Linked DNA regions of Homo sapiens: all the other regions are linked to region 1. Evidence: fine-mapped expression QTL. A gene starts in region 1. Each other region holds a variant in brackets. All regions are shown on one strand. Distances are from middle to middle.

Region 1 (5,111 bases):
TATACCAGACAGGTTTTGGGAGTTGATGTTAACCTACATCACTTTTCATTTAATAGCTAGCTGCTGCTTAAATGTTGCTTCTTGTAGAACTGGCCAAAGCATGGACAGCCTGAAGCACTTCCCTGTCTGAAAATCTTGTTGCTTTGTACACAAACCATTAAATGCTAGGAAAATGACAATCTCTACTGAAATGGGTGTAAAGCTGTATGTGATTATCAAAGATGTGGAGAAAAAAGCAAAGCTTGCAAACACCTGTAGCCAGCCTTAGCTTCAGCAGACACTTGCTACTTGGAAGGCATGTATGTTTCTACCATATGAAAAAAAATATCAAACTTGTAACACAGAAGTGAGGACTAAAAGGATAAAGCATAGTGCTGAAAAGATTTCTAAAATAGTTATTTTCAAAGGGTTCATCCATATTTTAAAAAATAAAATGCTAAGTTAAATGACCAGTCCCATTAGAGACATACCTGTTAAACCCTCCCGGAGCCCTTGTCAGCTTTGCAGCTATAAGAATAAACTGTACTGAAATTCTGGTAGGTTTGCTTTTGTTAAGCAGGCACTATTCATTAACATAATTCCTGTCACTTAAGTGTATAAATACCAAATTATGCAAAATTGATATTTTATTCTGATTCCATGAAAAGATTGGGTCAACAGAAGGATCTTAAAATTAACATAACTAACCAAGGTTTAAAGAAAACTAGCTTTAAACATAGATCCCCATATGGGAAGGTGTATTAACACCAAAACAGACATCATGCCAACCTGTGGAATATTTCTTTCACACCTAGCTCTACAAAGTAAACACTGCTTTATGTGGCATTCTTATCATGGAAATCTAGGCGGTGATCTATAATTACGATTAAGCCCACATGGGAAGTGGGATCTAAGTGAGAACTTTAAGCCAATTTTAGGTTGAAACATTCAGAAGAGGACAGAAACAAAGAGTTCCCAAAGCTTTAGGAAATAGCCATAGGAAATAAATATGAAAGGCAATAATTACACGTTAAGTGATACTGCCTGGAGAGTATGTTCATTTAGTAAGTATAAATTGACAAGGCTGACAAGCTCAATCTCCCACCAGCTCATCTCCTTGAGAAACTAGAAATTAGAATCTGTTCCTATTATCCTTTAAAACGCTGCACCTGCTTTTAACACATTTACATGTGTGTTATGCCATCACATCTGCCTGACAATGCTAGACTTCCCACATGTTTTTGAAGAAAATTAAAATAAGCATCTGCTAATAACAATTTTATTTCATCCTAAACAGTTTCATTTGGGGCTGATGAGAAAAAGCCACATAATGGAAAAAAGAAAACTACCTTTATAACTCTGTGGCAAACACATTTTAGAAGGTAGGTCTATAAATAGATGTGCTTCTGTAGGCACAGAGTAAATATAAAATCGTCAGGCTAGCGGGGCTGCAGTTTAAACTGAAGCCCCAATATGAACTTACCTGATTTTTAAAGTCCTATTAGAATAGGCTTACAATCAGTACACAGCTCCTTTTTCTAGTTGCATAGTAAAGGCAAAACACCCCCAACTACATTTTACTTATCTCAGTCTCATCTTTCATCAGAAGCAATAGTTTGCAATTTCATTCAGAAGCTGCTGTCCCTAAGCAGACTGAATATGCACAGAAACAGTAATGGAAGGGATCTAAGTTAAACCCTACAGACGCACCAAGAAAATAGCAACATCAACACGAAAAAGCAGCAATTTCCTTAAGAGAGGTGCTTTTCTTAGCTGCATTTCCCAAGCCAGCCCCCTTTCAAACCTAAAACGTCTCAGTTATGAAAGAGGATCTTACCTGAGCTGATCATACTGTGCATTCTTTGCTGAGCCAAGAGCTGCTCTCGTCCAGCCACCCCATCTGAGGAAAAACAGGAGTCACTCTCGTAAATTGTCTGCAGCATATTCCAGTCACTCTTACTTCAGCTACATGAAACATTCATCACTGCTCAGTGCACCGGCCCCAGGAGCTACCCTCGCTGGTTCTCCCTCCTCCCTGAGGAGAAGCAGCAGAGGATCAACTTCGACAATGATTTCCTTTCTGCTCAAATGGGCATCCACTTTTAAAAAGACCTGGACACTTTTCCCATGTTACCAACCTGTGTGCAAAGCAGAAAGGACAGAGTGGATGCTATAGCTCTCTGGAGTTTAGGTTATCCCGGAAACTACAAGCAGGTGGGAAATAGGAACGTGCTTCGGGGTTATTTCTTTGTCAGAATACGTAGAAAATTATTAAGTCTACCCACGAGAAAAAGAAACCAATTAAACCTGGCTTAGAGTTCTTCAGGCTGCTAGGGTTTTGTTGCAAAAACCCTCAGTCCTGCAAGTGGCTCCAGCCGGTGCCCTTCTCCTATCTGTGTCTGTGCCTCTCTTCCCCCTTTCTCAGTCTCTCTCAGCTCAAGTTGGCTAAAGCGAGTGATAATCCATTTGCATATGAATCAACAACAGCATGGCCCACAGGCACAGAAATAGAACAATGGTCGGCCTGAGCCAAAAATAGGTCAAGCATGGCCGAGTGATTGGAGCCTGCATTAATGCATTTAAAAATACCCCAGCAAACCCAGCTGTCCAGCCTCTATCTTTCCAACCATAATTCTCTATCGCAGGGCCTTAAAACCAATTAACTCTTTCCTCTCTCGAAGCTTGCTTTACACACTGTGTTTCCATACTGGCGATTCGCTTCCAAAGAAAGGAAGGCAAGAAAAAAAATTAAGAATCATAATTCTAAGAGGGCAAATGCACATACATTTCATTTCATTTTATTTTTGTAGTATGTGTTTTTGGAAGAGAGAGGAGAGAAGTACAGAGCTCTGTATTGGTTCTAAAATAATACTGGAAGCTTTTGCTCATAATGTGGTTTCTGCCTCACCCACGCACAGCAATCCTGGTGTTCTATTTTTGTTGCCTGTTTCTCAGGCTACACTGCAGTTGGCTGTAGCACTAGAAGCTTTTCTGCCTTCTAGTTTCAGGACTAACAGGAGATTTAGCAGAGGTACTTTTGGAAAACAAGCACACCCCAGAATAAAATTTTTATGAAGGACAGGCTTGATTTTTTACTTGCTATTTATGCAAGACAATTGTCCATTTCACAAATCCTATTGTATCTTAGTACCACCTATGAATTTTATCGCATCCATCCAGTTAGTACTATATCTATAAACAAAACAAAACACAAAACACAAAACCGTGGCTTATATGTGAAAATTTCCCCTCAGCCTCTCAGGCTAAATTCAATTTACTTGCAAAAGGAAAAGAAAGTAGTCTGATTTCTTATGGATACAGAATTTCTGAGCATATGCACCTGTTGATGGATAAATCATATATATGGTTAGTACCCAACTATGACTGTTCTGCATTCAGCTATACATTGGTTGCCCGAAATATGGACCTCCTAACTTTTCTGTAGAAATAGCATTTATGATAGTCAATAGATTACCAGACACATTGTGGCGTTCAGCTATACAGTACAGTAGATAGTATCAGAGTTTTATAGTCTCTGGTGCTACATTTATATCCTTTCTATATAAGAGATAAATTTTACATTCCAAAGAGGGATCCTAGCATCTTGTCACTTCCAAGAGCAAACCCAAAAGTGATAATCTACTAGTCATGGAAGCTCTTTTCTCTTTTCTAAACTAAATCAGCGAGGAAAATGTAATTCTAAGGCATCAGAAGCAACAGGGGAAAGAGAGGAAAAAGCAGATTATTTCAAAATTCCCAGAACAATCCGATGGAAGAGGGATCTTGGTCAACTCCAGAGTATGAAGTCAGAGGGGGCAAACAAGGGGACACAGAGTTTTGATGAAAGGGAAGAAATAAGCACGTTAAATCATTCATCAAATAGGCCACTGCTGAATTCCTCTTCTTTCACAGATTAATTTCTACTGAATACTCTACTTCTTGAAAAATTGTATTTGGATATGTAAGTTACAATTTTTAAAAAATATATATTCCAAACTGCGTTTGACTTAAGCTACACAACAAAATCTTATGTTCCTGTCAGTGGAAAAAACAAAAAGCAATTATCTGATTCCATCTGATATTACAAATAAACTTTTGATTACAAAATTTATGTGTAAAATTCAAAGGATAGAAACAGTGTGGACCTAATAATTTTCCTTAAGGATGATGTACTGAAGTAGTAACTATCATCACATTTTAGACCTGGGAGGAAATTTAGAGATAGTCAATTGTAGTTTTCAAACTCTGTCTCATGACATAAGGTACCTGCGAGTTGCCTAAGTTTCCTCAAAAAAGGTTCTCCGTGGAACCAGGGGAGCTCCACTTTTACCTGTTTCCATTTGGAGATTTGAGATTTCTTTTGAAGAACTTTTTTTTTTTTTATTCTACAAAACATTTATGTAAAGAACATTTTTTAAATTGCGGTATATTTGACAAATCAAGATTCTTTATATTTCAGGTGTACAATTTGATGATTTGATACACCTATACCTTGTGAAATAATTACCATAATCAAGCTACAAATCTATCATCTCAGCTAGTTACCATTTTTTTTGTGGTGAGATCAGAACAAGAACTTCTTATATTAAGAAAAACAATCATTGAAATTCACTCATGAGGAAACGAAGGAGGCTTGATTACAAAAGGACTCACTATTGGAGTCAGGCTTTAAAGACAGTAGCTTAAGGAAATACAGGTAATTAATAACTAACCATATAGGTCTAGCATTTATATTATCCAGTCTCACCATCTTGTCCCTTACCAAAATGATACAAATCATTATCTGAGATATTCCAAATAAAATTTAATATGATCTACTGATGAAAAATGGACCCACTGTCTGTTTCAGAGTGATTTTTAACAGAATACAAAAATTTATGATGAATATACAAAAGAGATAACAAAATCACCATATTGATACAATATGCCTATGCATCTTTTGTCTTTTTAAGTTTAAATTACACCTTCAAACAACAATTGATAAAAAAAGATCTCTCAGCTTTTATAATAAAAAATAAAAAATAGAATAAAACTCCAGAAGACTGAGTTAGTAATTATCCTAGTTCTTAAAGGATCCAGGAAAGGGCATTCCACATAAAATACTGTAAATAATGTGTCTTCTTCATTTTGAC
Region 2 (5,111 bases), 70 kb before region 1:
AATGTTTGTTAATGTGTGGGTTGATATAGTTTATTCTGAATGTTTTAAAACCTTGAGGTTTTAAAGAAACATCTTATACACCTCAAAGCTGCAATAATAATACTACAAGTTTGGCTATCACCCTAGTAATAGATCTGTAGTCAAACCACTACAGAAATTTTGTGCTTCATGCAAGATAGTTCTGGTAGTTAGGTATTGTTTAAAAACTATGGGAAAAATATTTACCCAAATGTTGTTCCAGATATTAATGCAAATTTAAATTTATATAACCCAAAATCATAGGAAATACATTGCTAATCATAGAGCTTAGCAAAGGCATTCTGAATCAAATGGCTTCTGCTTATTTTCCACAAAATTTATAATATAACTTAGATTAGACCAGTAGAATATTCAGTAGCTAGAGAACACATTATACAAAATTTTAAGTTCAAGCTTTTAAAAAAATGCTTTAAATGAATTGCTTGGAATTTATAAATCTTGAAGCTAAAAAGGTAAGTATTATCATGGTTAAACAAAAGAAATGAGAGAACAACAAACAGTGCAATTTGTCTCTATGCTAAGGTAAATGCTCTTGTATAGGGGTTGTTATTCAGGTTTCCTCGCCTTGCCCAGTTAGGGGGGAGAAGTATAGCCATAGAACCCCATGCGATTCCTTAGTTCAACATAGAAATTCAACCCGCCACATCAGGCCTGTCTTGGTTAGATTTACGTAGGCGGTTCACTTGGGCTTATTCCCCTCGAGATAAATTTGGCATGCTGCAGGACATACTCAAAGCCAAGGTTCAAAAACTACTGGGCATGTCTGGAGAGCAGGTGGGGCTGGCACTGCAGATGTCTATTTGCATGAATGACTAAGGCACCACCTAAGAAAAACTCATCTTTAGCAAAGAGGAAGCTAGGCCTTGCGACACACTTGACCTGATAACCTCAGGACCTGAGGGAAGGTTTGATTCTGAACATACGGTATGGTACATCCTTCCTCTGTCTTCTCTCACCTCCAGGTCCTAGAGTACAAACCTACTACATCCACTACACTCCTCTGAAAATGCTTTACCAAACTCGTTGGTAACAAACCTTTGTCATCTTGCTTGATTCTCACAAGCATGGGATACAGTTGTTTTAAAGAACAAGTAATGAATAAATTAACATCTCTATCAGTCTACTCTCAATTGCTTGCTAATGCCCAATACCTTGTCAATGTAAAGAAACAGAATTTGGCAGAAAGAACACTGCGTCTCCAGTTCTAGTCTTGATTAGTCCACGTCTATGGATCCTGGGTTTCTCATGTATAAAACAAATAAAACCAGGGAGGTAAAACAGTGATTCCCAAGGCTTCCTCTACTGCCAAAGCTATTCCCTCCCCACCTAAAAATTGTGTGTATGTGTGTGTGATTTACTTTTTTAGTCTTTATCAGAAAGTATATCTCATGCAAAAGGCAACTGCTGTTGGCCTTCATTGACTTCTTTGGGTAAATCAATAACCACCATACATAATAGATTCTGATGTAAAGAAAGGGAGAGGTACTAGGAAGCAAGCGGGATCCCTACCAGATAAGAAATGATAGAGAATTGAAAGCAGGAACTCTGAAGAAAGCTTTATCTAATTAAAAACTACCCTAGGACAGGCTTTGCCTGATATATAAAATTCAGTTGTGGTCAAAATTGTTTTATTCCTTGATTGTGGTATTTGGAAACCTCTCCTCTAACTTTCCATAATAAATAGCAAAATATTACTTTCCATTTTCTCTCTCAATGAAAACACCACTTTCTACAATAGTTGCTTCTTAAGGGGGTGGAATGCACAAAAATATCTACTTTTTGTAATGTTACTTAGCAAAACAAGAATAGACATTTTCCTCACTTAAAAAGTTTTTACTATACAGTAATATAATACCCAGTTTGAGAAAAATCAGAAATATTATTCTGATCCTATGAAATGTGATGGTTATTCAACAGCTCCCACATTGCTTAATAAAGAAACAGAAAATTGCCCAGAATTAGAAACCACTAAGCCAATTAAAGTTGCCAGGGTAAAACTGAAAAAAAAAAAAATTATCCACATTATAAATATCTTAGAATACTTTTCTTTCTTTCTTTCTTTTTTTGGTTAACATAAAAAGATTTCATTACTTGCAAAGGCTTATATAAATAAAATTAAAACAACATCACCAATTTGCTTTTATTATTTCAGTGCATTTAGATATTTCAAAATGCACCTTTGTTTTTTGGCTGAAAGAATTCCCCACCCTTTTTTTTCTTTTTTTCTACAGAAGTACCCTACACTGTCCAAAATATGTAGTCCTGTTCAACAGCTAAAGAACTCTTCTCCTCCTCCCTCTCTAATTTGGCTTCAAGTCAAGGCTGTTTTTCTCATTCCAACTGTTTTGGACATATGCTGGCCCAACTAACAATGGTAAACACAGCAAGCTGTCTCTGATATGATGCTGATTAAGTAATCTTGTGAGCAAGTAGAGTTTGGATATTAAGATGCTGAGGAAAAAATTACTCACAGAAATTCTCTACCCTTTGAAAAATATTTGGATTCTTGATTTTACATTATATGATAAACAAACCATGGGATATTTTTTAAAAAATACATTTATTTGGCTGAGCACAGTGGCTCACGCCTGTAATCCCAACACTTTGGGAGGCTGAGGCGGGCGGACCACCTGAGGTTGGCAGTTTGAGATCAGCCTGACCAACGTGGAGAAACCCCGTCTGTA[C/T]TAAAAATACAAAATTAGCTGGGTGTGGTGGCGCATGGCTGTAATCCAAGCTACTCGGAAGGCCAAGGCAGGAGAATCCCTTGAACCCGGGAGGCAGAGGTTGCGGTGAGCCAAATTGTGCCACTGCACTCCAGCCTGGGCAACAAGAGTGAAACTCCGCCTCAAAATAATAAATAAATAAATAAATAAATAAATAAATAAATAAATAAATAAATAAAATACATTTATTTGATGCTGGCTTAGGCATTTGAAATATGAAAGAGCCTAAGATGTGGTCATTACATTCATGGATTTTCCAGTTTAAAATAAGGGCAAGTAGAGGAAACAGTGGAAGCCCAAAGATGAGCTTAAAATAACATTCTAAAGACATTGCTTCATCTTACAGAAAAATAAAAAGGTATAAAATTGAAATTTTGAGGACTTTGAATAGTGTTTCAATAAAATCTAATGGTAAAATGTTAATACAAAAGTAGTCTCTTAACGAAAAGGAATAGGTATAGAGGCCCAATGTCAATCATAAGCATGTGGTACAAGATACTTGGAAGAAATATAAACATTATAGTGCATATTATTCCTATTTAGAATAAAAAAATAAAAATGGACATCTTCTATCCTGTTTTTGAATATTAGAATTGCGCACTTATTTTTCATTTAGCTTAGACTGCTATATACCAGCTTCCTCTCAGTATGCAAATAGAATAGATAAAACCAAACTGTAAAATAAAGCCAGGAATACAAATTGTCTTTTAAAAAATACTTGGAAGCTTAATAGAAATAAGCAAGCCCCAAAAAAAGGGATTACCTCACACTTGATAAAACTGTAATTTCTCATTTATTTATCAATAAAGCTCTTACTGGGTTAGTACTACCTATAATTTGACAGACATAAAATCAGGACAGATTAATTAATTTATAGCCATGGACAATTTTTTTTTTTCAATTGTATGGTTGCAACTGTACTGTTTCCTTGTTTCTAAACTATGCAGGCCTTGAACATAGAAAGATGAGGAGAATAGTCATTGTTGTCAAAAAATTTACAATCTGGCCGAGTGCGGTGGCTCACACCTGTAATCCCAGCACTTTGGGAGGCCGGGGCGGGCGGATCATGAGGTCAGGAGCTCGAGACCATCCTGGCCAACATGGTGAAATCCTGTCTCTACTAAAAATACAAACAATTAGCTGGGCGTGGTGGCACACACCTGTAGTCCCAGCTATTTTGGAGGCTAAGGCAGGAGAATTGCTTGAACCTAGGACAGCAGGGTTGCAGTCAGCCAAGATTGTGGCATTGCACTCCAGCCTGGAGACACAGCAAGAATCCGTCTCAAAAAAAAAAAAAAAAGCAGCAAATCAACATGGTACATGTATACCTATGTAACAAACCTGCATGTTGTGCACATGTACCCTAGAACTTAAAGTATAATAAAAAAAAATAATCTAAGTTCATGGGGGGGGTTGGGTGGTTCTGAGGGAATTGATGGCAAGAAAACATACCAAAGATATAGAGTATGATATGGGCAAATACTGATGATTTGAATAGATAACTAGAGATGGTGACAGGTGCCATGTTTTGAGACTATTCTCTATAACGAATATTGTGCTAAACACCTTAAATACATTGTGTAATCACAGAAACAGGAAAAATTAATTCTGCCTGTAGGGGTTATAAGAAAATTTTCTGAGTAAAAGATATTAGGGGATGGAAAATGGGGAAATAACTAAAATAAGCTAACAATAACAACAAAAGAAGATAACAAAAACATAACCATTGAATAACTGGAGCTTATATATTTTTGGAGGAGGCTTATATATTTTATATTTCAAATGCTTAACACAGGATGGAAAAAAAAAGATGACTTTGAGAGACATTTTCAAGGTATAATAGCAGGATTTGAAGACCAATTGTATAAAACAAGTAGAAATCCGTTTTTAAAAATCACTGATATACTGAGATTATAATAGCACTATTACGGCCACATTGAACTTTTTGAAATTAATTTTAAAGTCAGTGGGCAACATCATTTGAGAGCAAAAATGGGAGCACATAAATGGAATAAACCTTTCTTAGCCATCACAAAAGTTTTCTGTCAAAATATATCATAATATATTTATGAAATCTTGGAAAATTTGATCAGTAAATACAACCAAAATAAATAACTAATCAATAAAACATGACCTACATCAAGAAGAACAAAATTGTTGGGCATAAATTTAACAAAAGTGCAAACCTTGTACATCGAAATTACAACACTGTATGGAAGGAAATTAAAGGAGATCTAAACGAATGAAAAACATTTCATTTTCATAGGTTAAATATTTAATATTATTAAGATAGCAATATGACCCAAATTCATCCACAAATTCCATGAAATCCCTACCAAAATTCCATCT
Region 3 (5,111 bases), 400 kb before region 1:
CAGCCTCCAGCAACAGTTGCCTGTGAGGGTAGCTTTATTGCATAGCACAATGCAGTTGTGACTGAAGCTGTTTCCAAACACTTTAGGGCAATTTCATGTGTAACTTTTCCTCTGCCACTTTACAGGGTTCCTGAAAGGGTAGAAGAAAATACAGTAGGTAAGGCCAGACAAAACTTGTGACTAAATTGAATCTGGCATAAAATAATAATATGACATACTCTTGGGACAAATAAAAAAGAAAGCTGCTTGTTAAATGCAGTAGATTAGAAATGTATATATGCAGATGTGAACATTTAAAAGATTAAAAATACTGGACTGATATATGGAAACAACTTTTATGATTAAATAAGATAAGTTATGAAAACAATCCTATTGGATGTTCAGGAAATGTTTAAAACGAACCAAGTGGGTTGAGATATAGTTGGTTCATGGCCATATTTATATGTGGTAAAATACCCATACTATACAATGAGGTTAAGTCTAGCAATTATGTGGTTAATTTGGTCACTCTCCATAATCATAGAGATTCATTTGTTGGGGGTGGGATCCCCTACAGGCATTGGATTCTCCCAGTTGACTGGTAATAATAACAAACAGGCTTACCAGAAACAAACAGTTGTAAAGTCTCCACTATATTACGTGTTCAATTGATGCAGTTGAAATATCAAACCTAGCTTTTCTTTTCCCTAATGTCAGCAATGCAGACAAATAACAGGCGTTTGGAAAAAAGAGGATTTTTTTTAACTCTGAGATATTTTAATTCTGTCCCAGCAGAGAGTCAAAGAATCACAGGAACAAAATATATTATTCATACAATTTTATATATATATATATGTATATGTATATATGTGTGTGTGTGTGTGTGTGTGTGTGTATATATATATATATGTATATATAGTATATATACAGAGAGAGAAAGAGAGTCTGATCTGTTGCAGTATTGGAGCCTTGGGAATAAAGTATCTTTTTGGGAATCTCTGTAGTATATTATTAGAAGATCATGATTAATGTCACAGGACTTAAGCAATCTTTGAAAAGAAGTCAAAATGTGCCACAAAAATTCACTTGATTGTGCCAGTGGGAATATTTCCTAACATAGTCCCAAACTTCAAAAACAGTATAAAGCATGCAAATGGAGTAAGGGGCGGGGTCCATCCATTTCTTCCCAAGTATATTTAATCTATTTAACAGAAAAATGTTGGGAAAGTTGTGGCTCTTATTAGCATGAGAAAAGGGCATCCAGTGGTATCTATACACTAGACTGTTCACATGTTGTTTTTCCCAGGGTAGGGGTGGTATTCGTACTTCTTATTGCTTTATGTCACCAGTCTGTAACCCAGATTGTAACTTTAAGATGTTATCTTCTGGCTGCTCAGATAAACAGCCCATTATGTTTTTATGGTGGGCAGTTCTGAATCCTCAGGGAATTAGAAGATATTGGCTAAAGTTTGTGGCTCCCTGCTAGACTATCAAGGGGTCCATGGGATCTTGTCCGGACTATGACTTTAAGCAAACACCTCTCTCATAATGGTATTCTCACACTGCCTTCTTGGCCATGGACTTCAAAAGCTGATTGCAGGGAGGGCCAGAAAGGCAATAACCCTTAATATAGCAGGACTAGCCTAGAGGGGACAGACAGGGCAAAGGTAAGGCGTCTCTGAGGTTGGCATTTGTGTGTTTAGCCACATGGGGTGATTAAGGGCCATCTGTTCTTCAGTGGGCTAAATCATCGTTTTCACAGCATCCCAGGATCAAGTACATTTCATGCTTAGAAAGCATGAAGAAGCACCCTAGAGTTTTCCCAGTCCTAATGAGACATATTTTAAATTTATTTATCTTTGATTTCTAAATAATGATAGTATGCATAGGTGCATTAGTGTGTGTGCACCTGTGTGCGCATGTATAGATTTGAGTTGTTTTTGTAGACTTGAAATTAAGAGTATCACAATTAAAGCAAAATTCTTGTATGTATTCATACATCTTTTGGACAGGGAAAAAAACCTCTGGAATGTTATGCTGATAGAAGTCTTTGTTTTGTTTTGAATATATCGTGTGACCAGTTCATTTTTTTTTAAATTAGAGAAACTCCTTGTTTGAAATCCATGTACAGAGAAATCTATCATCTTTCTGTGTGTGTATTATCAAGTCTTTCAAACAACACTTTATTTCAGAAAATGCACATTATCAATTTGTGAGAATAGAAATTTGAATTTTTCTGATAGTATTTCCACACTGAAGATAATTTTTTTATATTACAGGTCACAGATAGTATGAAGCTTGTTAAAAGTTAGATGTGATTAGTGTGGATATCCATCTTTATCCATACTACTAGGGCTATATAACCCTAGTTATATAACAAATTACACTGATAATTTGTTAAATAACAAATTACATTGAATAGTTCAAGGCTTATAGATTTTTAAA[G/T]ACTGTATCATTAACTCACTGTATTCACATTATTTATAAGGTAAGCTAACCACCATGTCTTCCAAAGAAATAATTAATATACTATTAATTTTAACTGGACTAAACCAAATGATTAAAATCTGTAGATTCTGAATCTATAAAATTTTTGAAGTACGATCTATTTAATTGTTACATAGTTGAAACTTACTATTGGCAATCGACAGTCTTCCATCATGTCAACATCTTTAACATGATCTAGCCTAGGTTGTCAGATTCTTCATCAATCTCAGAAAAGATAATAAAAAAGAAGACATCAAGTTCATGTTTGGCTATAGGGAGAGCAAGTAACTTTCAGGGAAAAAAAAAATTATACCAGTACATCAGGTGAGTAAACTCAGTCCTACTAATTACTAGTTACCACATAGGAGCTCACTTCAAATCTAAGCACTACAAGAAAAGTGTCCTCTATTGACAAGACACCCAAACAGCATTTTTATTAATAGGGACGACAGTCTAGCTGTCATCCAAAAGTTATGTTTTCAATCAGCCAAACCATAGCAAATATATCCTAACATTAAAACATGTTTTTTCATTAATAACAGTTTGCTTAGTGGAGATTCCAAAACCTAAGCCATACTTTGGAAACTTTCCCTATGCAATAACTTCCTAACTCAGCAATCTTCATACTTTTTGGTAGCATAAGCGTAACAGAATTTGAAAAACTATATACCTTCTTTCGTCTTTTAAGGGGATGTCTAATATTTTTATGAGTTAGTATTTCTTAAAGGATATACTTTTAAGCATATTGTGTAAGTGATTTAAAAACATTTCCTCAAAATATTGGACCTCTGGATTTAGCTGATTCAATTTATGGAAAATGTCCACTATGCAATCAGATAGACAATACCAGTCTTCCTTGTCACACCAATCAACTAAATCAGACTCACTTATAAAAAAAAAGTCTTATCCTTTTTTTCCATTCAAATGTTGTAAATGTGAATTCCAACATAAGCAGACTGATGATCAATGGATAGATAAGTAAGTAGATATATATACAGTAAACACCCTTTCTCTGAGTACATACCCTTTCTCTGAGTTTGTAACTTAGATAAAATGAGATACTGCCTCTCTCAATATTTCTTTATAAAACTCACAGTATTTTGTGGTCAAAGGAAACGCCTTCAGAAATAATATGTTCTCTTAATTACTCTCCTTCACATACCTCAAACACTATTAACATGAGGCCACTCATTATTTTTCTGAAAATATAACATGCTTTTAGAATTTTTAAAATATTTATGTAAAAAATTTTTAGCTATTTGTTCCATTTGGCTGTGTACCACTCATCTTTTTATGCCATATACAAGTTACCTTGTCAGTGAGGTCTTTACTCAACCAGGTAATCTGATGTACTTCTTCATCTATGTTCCCATAGAATATTATTTTACAAATATATTGTCATAATTGTGTATGTGTCTGTCTTAATAGACTATGAATGCTTCCCCAATGTTAAAAACTCAATAAATGTTTTAAAACAAAACAAATAAATCAATGAATGATTCAATCATTAAGAAATAATTCCACCAAGAAATGTCTAAAATGGTGCTTTACAAGGTCAGTTGCCATGTATGACTTTATGGTCCAGAGGAGATGATTAAAGAAATGTGTGAAATATATTTTACTATTCATGCATATACAAAAATGTATTTGTTCCTGAAGAGATTGACTTATAGGGAACATTTTAAAAGTGACAGTAAAAAACTGTGTCTAGAAAGATCACACATGGACACGATATTTAAAAGCATTGGATCCATGCATGGTTCCCTGGTGGCAAAGACCCTTAGCTGAAATGGAGGGATTTTTTTTTTTTTTTTTAAGTAACCATATTTTAAAAGAGCAATTAGATAGAGAAAACATAACATTTGTTTTATAACCACTTTTAAAACTTCATTATACTCATTCTACACATATAATGAGTAGCAAATAAAATCTTTAAGTAGACTCCAATTCTTAAAATATTATGTAGAGAATTATAGCCCATTATTCACCCTTTTAGGTTGCCAAATCAAGCAGTTTAGCAAGATCTTCTCCAGTAAAACATGGTTGAATTGATATGACCTACAAATATGATTATTAGATATTCTGCAGAAAAAGGTAGCAGAGCAAACAGGAAGGATCAGAAACCTCCGCATAGCATTCTTTAAACAATTTTTAGTAAATTGTAACACTGCATTTTAGGAGTCACATTATTTTTATTTATTATCTTATAGCTATATTCTAAGAAAACAAAGGAAAAAGTTATAAAGTCCTAGAGTTTTGACAAATCATAAATTCTTCCAAGTCTTTGTTTAGATTTTCGAGAATTATTCAATAAGCGATCATTTGAAAGGCTTTATTACCTTTTCTTCAAAAGTCATCTTTAAATCAGATGTACACATTTCTTAACCACACTCTGTTACAAATAATTATGTAGAAAAATGTCAGTAAAGCTATTTCTGAAAAATTCAGTCAGACCAGATTTTTTCAGCCATTATTTTCCCCAAATTTAATTAAATTTTTTTTCTATTTTTAAAATTTATTATATTCAGGAAATTCAAGGAAGATATAGGTTGTGGTTTTAAACTAGAAAAAATGAGCATATGCATACTCTAGACTTAATGAATACATATTGCTAAATCCTTTACAATGTCATTGTATGCAGAAGTAGT
Region 4 (5,111 bases), 180 kb after region 1:
AATCTCACTCTTAAAACACTGTAAATAACTTACTCTTCAATAAGTAAAAGCCTGCGTATGACACTGAACATATAAGAACAATGAAGGTTATAGCATCCAGTCCTCCTAAAACTCTTCTAGATTTTCTTGCCAATGCACCAACAGAGATAAAAGGAAAGTTATTACCTGAAATAAAACCTCACTCCAATTTACTGCCACATTTCCAGGCATCTCATATCAAACGTAACTATTAATAGCAGGATTCTCACACTGCAAGTCCAGTCTAATTTATAATTTATCTCCCCGACTTTTCCTGTTTTTCTGTCTTGGGATTTTTCAGCCTGAAAGAAACACCATCCTGTTTTATAGGTTTGGTTTAGAAACAGTGACTGCAGATCCTCTGCAAATGGGACACTATCCCTTTGGCTGGGCTATGATCTGGAGATAAGGCAGGCTTATTACTATCTCTAGAATACAATGGCCTCCTCACCCACATATCCCTCCCTTCTGTCTCACATTGCTAACAGCATAGCTATGAGTTTCTATAGAACTTGTCACCAGGGAACTGTCCAACATACTTTGGCAAAGGAATTATTTTGCTGCCTAAGGAAAGAGGATAGGAGGATAGTAAAAAGAATAATCTCTTGCTTGGAAGCTGGCCATCTAATTAAACTCACAAGAGTATTGATTCTGTCCACTTAGATTAACTTTAATTTTATGTATAACCAAATTACAGATTCAACTTAACCAATGTAGATCCCTGAAATCCCTCCAAAAATATATCAAATGTCTCTAAGTGAAATTTCCCAAGTGAACATGATTGCAGTCCAACTTGATTTATTGTTTATTTTCTATTTTAACTTAAAATCTTAGCACAAAAGGATAAATTGAGGCAGTGTATTAAGTAGAATGCAGCCCACATGATTTAACAAAGGAAGAAGAAACAGTTTTATATTCATTAAGGCTATGTTATTATTCCAGTGGTTTATAAAATATTCAAGAGTAGCATTTTAAATTAAATTGTTAGTGTGTGCAATAATTTTCACCTAACACATCACACATTATAAAAGCATTTGCATATATTAAAATCCAAATATTCCAAAGTTCACACATGGTGACAAGGATATGAAATCCTGAATTCCGAGCTTGACTAACCAGTATCTGACTAGTGTGTTCCACATCTTTACTAAATGCTGAGCAAGAGAAAATGAACTAAGTATTTGGATCTGAGCCTTAATAATTCTCAGTGTCAGGTCATAAATCTCCTGACAGGAAAATATTAAATTCTGAAATCACTTCTGAAAGAATTTATAGCATTATTTTCTTCAGATTATTTGCTACATAGCACCAATTTTGTTATCTCTGAGTTACTGTGGATATAATTGAATCAGAAAAATGCAGAATGGACCAGGTCACTTATCTATACATTTCTACCAAGTTTCCACTTGATTGCTTTACTGGTCTATTTTTCATATAATTATCAATCACTAATATTGAATACTTTTTCCCTGAAATCAGCTAAAATATTCTTAGAATTCATGGGTGACCGAAAACTCAGGTGATGAAGAAATGTTTTCTTCGTAAAGCTGAACAAACTGTTCCCAGAATTGTCTTGAAAGGATAGGACAAAGGAATAGGTAACCATGCATTTAAGAAAACAGGTGCCTTATGTCTAATTTTCCAAATCTCTACGAATTATAGGAAGACAAATCTGAAAAGTTTTTAAGGGCTATGGAGAATAAAGTAGCTAGAACTTTCAGAGAAACAAAAATATTTCTCCTTCTAGAAATATACCCTCAAAGTCCCTAATAAACCCATTAAACTGTTAGCAAATTGCATTTCTTAAATCTTTTAAAGGGGGCCACTTTAATTTTCCAAGAGAAGATTGTCTAGGGCAAGATACAAAGATTTCTTACCATGATTACTGTTCACAAGCTAAAAATAGCCATCTAAGAAAACTGAGATCAAGCAACTTCCTGACACAAACCTGACCTAATTCAACAATTTGATCTTTATCAGTCCCTGCTGAAGACCCAGAGAGTTGTGAAGCTTCTGCTAAGAATAAAAGACCATATAGAGGACTCAGAACCCTAGGTGTAATTTAAATTTAAAATAATCAGGCTTGCAAGAGATTATAAATTACCTAATGTCTTCTAACAGAGGATCTGTTAAATTAATTTTGGAAAACCCACACAATGAACTACTATGTAGCAGTGAAAAAGGAGGCACAAGGCACTTCCACATGTGGAACAAAATCTGAAACATAAAATAAGAGGAATAAATTCAAGGCACAGAAAATGTGTAGTAATATTTTAATGTTTACTACAGATACTCACACAGACACACACAGCATAGCATTCTGGAAGGCTACACAAGAAAGAGACAACAGTGATTGTTTCTAGGAAAGAGAGAGAAAAGAGAGACAACCAAGGAAAAGATGGAGAAATAGATTTTTCACTGTATGGCTCTCCTATCTTTGCATTTTGTGCCTGCTCATCTGACACATATTTTTAAATCACATTTAAAAGCACCAGGGAAAGAATATGTCTGTGTTCAAAAATATGCAGCCATGGTAGCAGTCCTGCACCTCTAACTGTATGCCCTAGAAGGAGTCAGGACAATAGGCCCTACAATCACTTTGTCCTCTCCTCATTCACCAGGAAGGTCCACATAATCTGGGTACACATCTTTTCCACCTACTGTTCTTTAGATTGTTTAAAATAAATTTCCCGTGGTAGTGCCAAGAGGGTGGTTCAGTGGCAAAAGCCATTTCCCCCCACAGTAATCTCCATCAG[C/T]CTCTTTACAAATACTTCCTAAAACAAACACACATCCTAAATAAAAGGATGCCTTCAAATGGAAAAGTAGCTCTAACGCCAGTCTACAGCCAGTCTCCATTCCTTCATCTCTAAATCCTTCTATTTAGAAAATTTGAGGCTGTCACTATATTGTCCCCATATTTGGGAGAAAAACATTCCCCATTTGGTTCATCCCTCCTTGACAGTAGTAGAATATGAAGGAGCTGACTAGGTAAGACAGAATATAGTACTATGAGCGAGGGCTTTGGAGACAGACTACCTAAGTTTGAACTGCGGATTTGCCACTCATTATGTAAATTTGGGCAACTAACCTAACCTCTCTGTGCCTATTTCCTCATCTGTAAAATATAAATAATAATATTATCTATCTGATAGCACAATTTTTTATTCTGCAGGCTGTGACTATTAATGTGAGTAATGAAATCAATTTTCTGAATCTCAACTGGACTTTTAAAACTGAAATTAAACATAATAAAATGGAAGGGAATAAAAACTCACAAGTTATTAGATATAATAAAAGTTGATTCATTATTTCTTTTCCTAATCATATACAATATATACATAAAGGAAGTATATATGTACCAAATCTCAATTTTTTCATTGGGGGTTATGTTCAAAAGGTTAAAGGCTTTTGTCATAAGTAGGCTGTGTGAATAAAAAGTATTAATAAATATAAAATACTTAGAACACTGTTTGGTACTGTGTAAGACCTCTAAATGTTAACTGCAGAATCCTTGTTATAAAAACAGTAACCTATTTTTGTCATCATCATCATCATCATCATCACCTCTCTCCAGAACTGAGAGGTAAACAAATAATATCAATATAAAATTGATGTGAGCAAAAAGTTACATTAACATAAAGATCTTATTACAATTTAATTAATGATATTAAAAATCTATATAAATAACCATCAATAATATATAACTTTTTTTAGAAATAGAAATTTGAAAGAGATAATAGAGTAGATTTGTATAACATGGTTCAGAAAGACACTGAATTTAGCGGCCCTCAGCAATTTAGTAAGAGAGTGTGTGTGTGTGTGTGTGTGTGTGTGTGTGTGTGTGTGTAATGGATTTGTACAAGTTGATAAAAATCTGTAGAAAATGTCAACTTCTCTTTCCCCTGATTCTATAGCTGTAAGTTAACAATGCTGTATGATGTCTATGTCACACCTGCAGGTATATATCAAAGGTGGAGGCCTGAATTGGTATCATGGACAATTCAATCACTGGACAAGGGATTGTTGGGATATTCCCAACTCTAAATGTTAACTTGTGCACAGTGCGAGTATCAGGAGAAGTTAAACGTGAGTGTATGCATAATTTTTTGTTATGCCTCTGATTGTAATTAGAAAAATACAACTGGCATTTCTGATTTGTACATGTGTTCCTTAGGAGACTGGTTAACATGAGGCTGTCACTGACACACAGGCTAACTCTTACTTTACTGACCAAATTCAGTTTCAGGACACACATATTGCTAAAATGATGTGAACACAGCCAGAGATGCTGTTATTCTCTAAAGATTTTCTGGGCCATGGTATATCGTCCTCCAAAGAAATATCTATCCCAGTGTTTTTCAAAACCGTGTAGTCACAGAGCCCAACATAAAACTCTGTGATACGTAAAACAGAAAATCAAAGTTCCCATAGTTGAAATGGACATGGGGAAGCCTGGGAACCATTCCTGATCATTCCCCCCAACCCCACCCCCCCACCACAGTCCTCCCTCTTTCCAATCTGGCAGGCCTTGGGATAGCTTGAAAGTCTCTACACTATCTGGGCACTTATCAAGCTAAAGTGTGCATCTGAATGATCAGGAACACGAGTTAAAAATCTAGATGGCTGGGCTGCACCAGTGTCTGAACCAGAAAGCCTAGAATTTGCATTTCTAATGGTCCAGGAATCACACTTTGAGGACCACTGCCCTACCACATTGCTTCAACACATTTGTTTAATATCACAAACAAGGACCACCTGGATTTCATCCTTTGCAACTAATGTGAAATATTTAAATATTTTTTATTATAATAGCATATTTTTTAAAACTCTAGATATTGAAGTAGGTAAATTTGAGCTTTTTTTTTCATCCAAGTCAGTTTTAAAATCTAGTGATTTAGTTTTATTAATTGAGAACAATCTCATCACGGCATGAGAAGGCTCTGATAACATGCTACCACAACAAATGTTCCCGAAAGTTCTTTAGGTTCGGTTTGCTTATAGAACAATAAATGTTCCCTGTTTGGAAACAGTCCCCAAATGTTCCCTCTTGTTTAAACTGTGTGAATTCTTAACATACTCAGCACACATACTGT
Region 5 (5,111 bases), 500 kb before region 1:
AGTGTCTGGGATAAGGAGGTTGTGAGAGAGAGTTTAGAGGTGGTACATAAGATAAATGAGTCATACTTCAGAAAAGTCTTTTCTATCAAAAATAATCAGCATTCAAAGAAGAAAGATTTTAAATTAAGGAAGACATTTAAGTTTTGAAACTAATTCATACATAAATATATAGCCTTATTTACATCTGAGAATATGTGAATAATACAGTTATAGAACTCAAACTGGATATTCTAATGGAGACCGATTTTTCCAATTTCTAACTCAAGCTGCAGCAGGATAATCTTTTCCCCCGAATCCAGGATTCAGTGTGGCTGGAATTCCAGAGACAGTCACGTGTGGGAAATGTCTCAGAGGTCACAGATGTAAGGAATCCACATGTCTCTGTGGTGGAGGATCTGTGAATTCTCCACATGTCCAACCTAGGCTTAAAGGATGTGAGTAGGCTGTCTACACTGCAACCCACTCACTGCCAAAAATTAAGCCTCTTTGGTTGAAACAGGGCAACTTGCAGGTACAATAGAAAGCTTTCCATCAGATGCTTCTCTGCCTTTTCCTCTCTTTGAAATCATTTTATATTGACCTCTTTTTTTTGGAATAAACCACTTATAGCTGCCCACCTTCTATTGAACCATCTACACATATGCATAATTAACCAATTCTCTCTCTCGCTCTTTCATTTATTTATGTATTTTTGAGACAGGGTCTCACTCTGTTGCCCAGGCTGGAGTGCAGTGGCATAGTCACAGCTAACTGCAGCCTCAACCTCCCGGGCTCAAGCCATTCTCCTACCTCAGTATCCCGAATAGCTGAGACTACAGGCATGTGCCACCATGCTGGGCTAATTAAAAAAAAAATAATTATAGATGGGGTCTTGCTATGTTGCCCAGGCTGGTTTTGAACTCCTGGGCTCAAGAGATCCTCCTGCTTTAGCCTTCCAAAATGCTGGGACTACAGGGGTACGCCACCATGTCTAGCCTCAATTCTCCCCAGCGTCTTGCAGCATAGAAGTGTTAGTAGCATAGTAAGTTGGAAAATATCCTGGATTTCAAGGTAGATGTTCTGGGTTCAAGTCCCAGCTGTTTTACTTTCGAAAATTTGACTTTGAATCAGTCAGTCAGTGTCTCTAGATTGTCAATTTTATCTTTAAAATAGAAATAATAATCCCTTACTTGCCCTCACGGTTATGAGAATTGAAACGAGTTAATGTAAGAAAACATGATTTATACACTGTGAAGTGTGAAACAATTGTAAAATAACTGGATTATTTATATCTGCCATTGGGACAATTTATAGTATCTCTCTTCTCATAGCCCTAGCTCTCAGTAGAGGTGGCATTATCTTCATATAATCAAAAAATATGTCTACATTTTTAAAAAAGATGATTTCTTTATGGAACATTTAGAAAGATATCTGGTGAGTGATGACCCTTTAATGGCTGTGTTTGGAGGAATGAGAAGCAGTGCTCTGAAAATCTGGGGGCTTCCCACTTCAGCCATCCCTAGATACATGTCTACTTCACCTTGATTAACAAAGACACAAGCTGGGGGAAGGAAAGACATGCAGGGAGCTGAAGACAGTAAGTTCGGAGATAACTATAAAATCAACCCAGCAAAGATAAATTTTAGTATAATGGTTTAACGAATTGAAAGACATAAGCTTCCCTCCAGCAAGTCAATGTCACAGTGAACACTGATAGTTTTCTGTCATTGATAATCAAAGATTTCATATCCTAAAGAAGGATCAATTCACTCCAACAGCCATAAGATAATTTACAAAAGTAAAAAAAAAAGGAAGTAATTTCACTTGAGACAAGATGTAGTATTAAATTAAATTCTTGTATTCTCTCTTAAATCTTATTTCTTGTGGTTTTAAAAATAGCATTTGTTTAATTTATATTAACACTGTTACGTAGTAAAACATTTTCTCATTTTACTGATTTAATTTAATTCTTATTTCTTACTTCTACTCCTCTTCCTCCTGAAAGGCAAGCAATACAATGCCTGTTACATTATTTTGTTTGCAAGTGTTCTTTAAAGCTGTGTATTATTGTTTTGTGGGTATATATTTTTATTTTATGTAAATTTTAACTTTATACACATGTGCATAATTTTCTCACTCAGTACTGTATTTACTAGATCTGTCATGCACTTATATTTATCTAGTTTGAAGCTGGTAACTTCTACGTGGCATCTCCATACAGTGCATCCACCACATTTTAACTATTCATTCTCCCAATAATGGACACTGGGCTTGACTCCAACTCTCTATTCACCATGAATAAAGCTGTAGTGAACTTCCTAGTATACGTACTCTAAAGACTTATGCTGAGAATGTCTTTGGTATACATTCCCAAGAGCAAAATTACCAGGTCATATATTTTGTGTATATAAAATGGTACTAAATTAGTATGCAGCATGGCTGCCATAGTTTATCTTCCCAAAGCAGTGAGGCTCTAAAGCCCCACATCTCCACCCATGCTAGCAATACTTAGTTTACTCATATTTTTCATTGATTCTAGAAAAAGTTGCTGACTGTGTACTGTGTGCCCTGGTTCTGTTCTAGGCACTAGGAACATAGCAATGAACAAAATAGACAAACATCCCTGCTCTCATAGAACTCACATTCTCCATTGACCTTATATTCTAATTGAATGTTTACCATCTAATATATGTAAAACAATACCTTCTTGTTATTCAAATTTGCATTTATTTGATAACTAATCAGTTTGGACAAAGATTTGAATTTTAGTAAGCCACAAAAGCTAAAGTAAAAGACAGAGAATCAAATGACTTTCATAAGTATGTGTCATAAGTAAGTCTGTTTATCTCACTGATGACTTCTTTTTTTTTTTTTTCTTTTGAGACGGAGTCTCTCACTGTCACCCAGGCTGGAGTGCAATGGCACCATCTCCGCTCACTGCAAGCTCCGCCTCCTGAGTTAACACCATTCTCCTGCTTCAGCCTCCTGAGCAGCTGGGACTACAGGTGCCTGCCACCACACCTGGCTAATTTTTTGTATTTTTAGTAGAGACAGGGTTTCACCGTGTTAGCCAGGATGGTCTTGATCTGACCTCGTGATC[T/C]GCCCGCCTCGGCCTCCCAAAGCACTGGGATTACAGGCATGAGCCACTGTGCCCAGCCTGATGACTTCTTTATCTTTCCAGTATTCACAAACTGATTTTATATATAACTAATTCATATATTAGTTCGTATTTTGTGAATTTTGTTTTATGTTCTTTCATTTCCTCATTCATTTTTCTTTTTCATCTCCCCCCTCCAATGTTATACCATTTTGTATACATACTAGACATCCCATAAATACTTTTTGAAATGTTTATATACATATGTTGGAATGATTTCAGTGCTCTTTACAAGTATGATAATTTAAATCAAGAACAAAATAAGAATTTGCAACAAAAGAATAAAGATCGAGAGGAGCCAAGATGGCCGAATAGGAACAGCTCCGGTCTACAGCTCCCAGCATGGGCAACGCAGAAGACGGGTGATTTCTGCATTTCCATCTGAGGTACCGGGTTCATCTCACTAGGGAGTGCCAGACAGTGGGCGCAGGTCAGTGGGTGCGCGCTCCATGCGCGAGCCCAAGCAGGGCGAGACATTGCCTCACTTGGGAAGCACAAGGGGCCAGGGAGTTCTCTTTCCTAGTCAAAGGGGTGACAGACGGCACCTGGAAAATCAGGTCACTCCCACCCAAATACTGCGCTTTTCCTACGGGCTTAAAAAACGGCGCACCAGGAGATTATATCCCGCACATGGCTCGGAGGGTCCTACGCCCACAGAATCTCGCTGACTGCTAGCTCAGCAGTCTGAGATCAAACTGCAAGGCGGCAGCCAGGCTGGGGGAGGGGCGCCCGCCATTGCCCAGCCTTGCTTAGGTAAACAAAGCAGCCTGGAAGCTCAAACTGGGTGGAGCCCACCACAGCTCAAGGAGGCCTGCCTGCCTCTATAGGCTCCACCTCTGGGGGCAGGGCACAGACAAACAAAAAGACAGCAGTAACCTCTGCAGACTTAAATGTCCCTGTCTGACAGCATTGAAGAGAGCAGTGGCTCTCCCAGCACGCAGCTGGAGATCTGAAAACGGGCAGACTGCCTCCTCAAGTGGGTCCCTGACCCCTGACCCACGAGCAGCCTAACTGGGAGGCACCCCTCAGCAGGGGCACACTGACACCTCACATGGCCAGGTACTCCAACAGACCTGCAGCTGAGGGTCCTGTCTGTCTGTCCTAACAAACAGAAAGGACATCCACACCAGAAACCCATCTGTACATCACCATCATCAAAGACCAAAAGTAGATAAAACCACAAAGATGGGGAAAAAACAGAGCAGAAAAACTGGAAACTCTAAAACGCAGAGTGCCTCTCCTCCTCCAAAGGAACTCAGTTCCTCACCAGCAATGGAACAAAGCTGGACGGAGAATGACTTTGATGAGCTGAGAGAAGAAGGCTTCAGACGATCAAATTACTCTGAGCTACGGGAGGACATTCAAACGAAAGGCAAAGAAGTTGAAAACTTTGAAAAAAATTTAGAAGAATGTATAACTAGAATAACCAACACAGAGAAGTGCTTAAAGGAGCTGATGGAGCTGAAAACCAAGGCTCAAGAACTACGTGAAGAATGCAGAAGCCTCAGGAGCCGATGCGATCAACTGGAAGAAAGGGTATCAGCAATGGAAGATGAAATCAATGAAATGAAGCGAGAAGGGAAGTTTAGAGAAAAAAGCATAAGAAGAAATGAGCAAAGCCTCCAAGAAATATGGGACTATGTGAAAAGACCAAATCTACGTCTGATTGGTGTACCTGAAAGTGACAGGGAGAATGGAATCAAGTTGGAAAACACTCTGCAGGATATTATCCAGGAGAACTTCCCCAATCTAGCAAGGCAGGCCAACATTCAGATTCAGGAAATACAGAGAACGCCACAAAGATACTCCTCAAGAAGAGCAACTCCAAGACACATAATTGTCAGATTCACCAAAGTTGAAATGAAGGAAAAAATGTTAAGGGCAGCCAGAGAGAAAGGTCGGGTTACCCTCAAAGGGAAGCCCATCAGACTAAGAGCGGATCTCTTGGCAGAAACTCTACAAGCCAGAAGACAGT

Direction of the effects. Alleles are on the strand shown, and positions count from the first base shown. SD is a standard deviation of normalised expression in the study named. Not every link is listed here.
For the expression in cerebellum of the gene that starts at base 2,392 in region 1, allele C in region 2 goes with a lower level than allele T (small effect, 0.30 SD a copy in GTEx).
For the expression in unexposed skin of the gene that starts at base 2,392 in region 1, G is the high allele of the variant in region 3 and T is the other (small effect, 0.15 SD a copy in GTEx).
For the expression in fibroblasts of the gene that starts at base 2,392 in region 1, C is the high allele of the variant in region 5 and T is the other (small effect, 0.15 SD a copy in GTEx).

What was found.
Region 2: its variant is fine-mapped to the expression of HDAC9 in cerebellum (GTEx, PIP above 0.99).
Region 3: its variant is fine-mapped to the expression of HDAC9 in unexposed skin (GTEx, PIP 0.97).
Region 4: its variant is fine-mapped to the expression of HDAC9 in lung (TOPMed, PIP 0.94).
Region 5: its variant is fine-mapped to the expression of HDAC9 in fibroblasts (GTEx, PIP above 0.99).

What each region holds. Positions count from the first base shown.
Region 1 is chr7:18,493,030-18,498,140 of GRCh38, reverse strand. It overlaps HDAC9 (histone deacetylase 9), which reads right to left and starts at 2,392. Exons shown (of 26, transcript NM_178425.4): 1 at 2,118-2,392; 2 at 1,817-1,879. The coding sequence starts at 1,838. RefSeq lists an enhancer at 2,614-2,663.
Region 2 is chr7:18,562,790-18,567,900 of GRCh38, reverse strand. The region is part of intron 2 of HDAC9 (histone deacetylase 9); the gene reads right to left. Among named protein-coding and RNA genes, the nearest start is that of HDAC9, 70 kb to the right of the region's middle. The variant C/T (reference allele first, on the strand shown) is at 2,724.
Region 3 is chr7:18,896,985-18,902,095 of GRCh38, reverse strand. All of the region lies in intron 22 of HDAC9 (histone deacetylase 9), which reads right to left. It overlaps HDAC9-AS1 (HDAC9 antisense RNA 1), which reads left to right and starts at 104. Exons shown (of 3, transcript XR_927081.3): 1 at 104-157. The variant G/T (reference allele first, on the strand shown) is at 2,425.
Region 4 is chr7:18,309,564-18,314,674 of GRCh38, reverse strand. It overlaps a transcript of HDAC9 not described here. Among named protein-coding and RNA genes, the nearest start is that of HDAC9, 180 kb to the left of the region's middle. The variant C/T (reference allele first, on the strand shown) is at 2,775.
Region 5 is chr7:18,989,385-18,994,495 of GRCh38, reverse strand. The region is part of intron 25 of HDAC9 (histone deacetylase 9); the gene reads right to left. Among named protein-coding and RNA genes, the nearest start is that of HDAC9-AS1, 90 kb to the right of the region's middle. RefSeq lists an enhancer at 4,013-4,514. The variant T/C (reference allele first, on the strand shown) is at 3,080.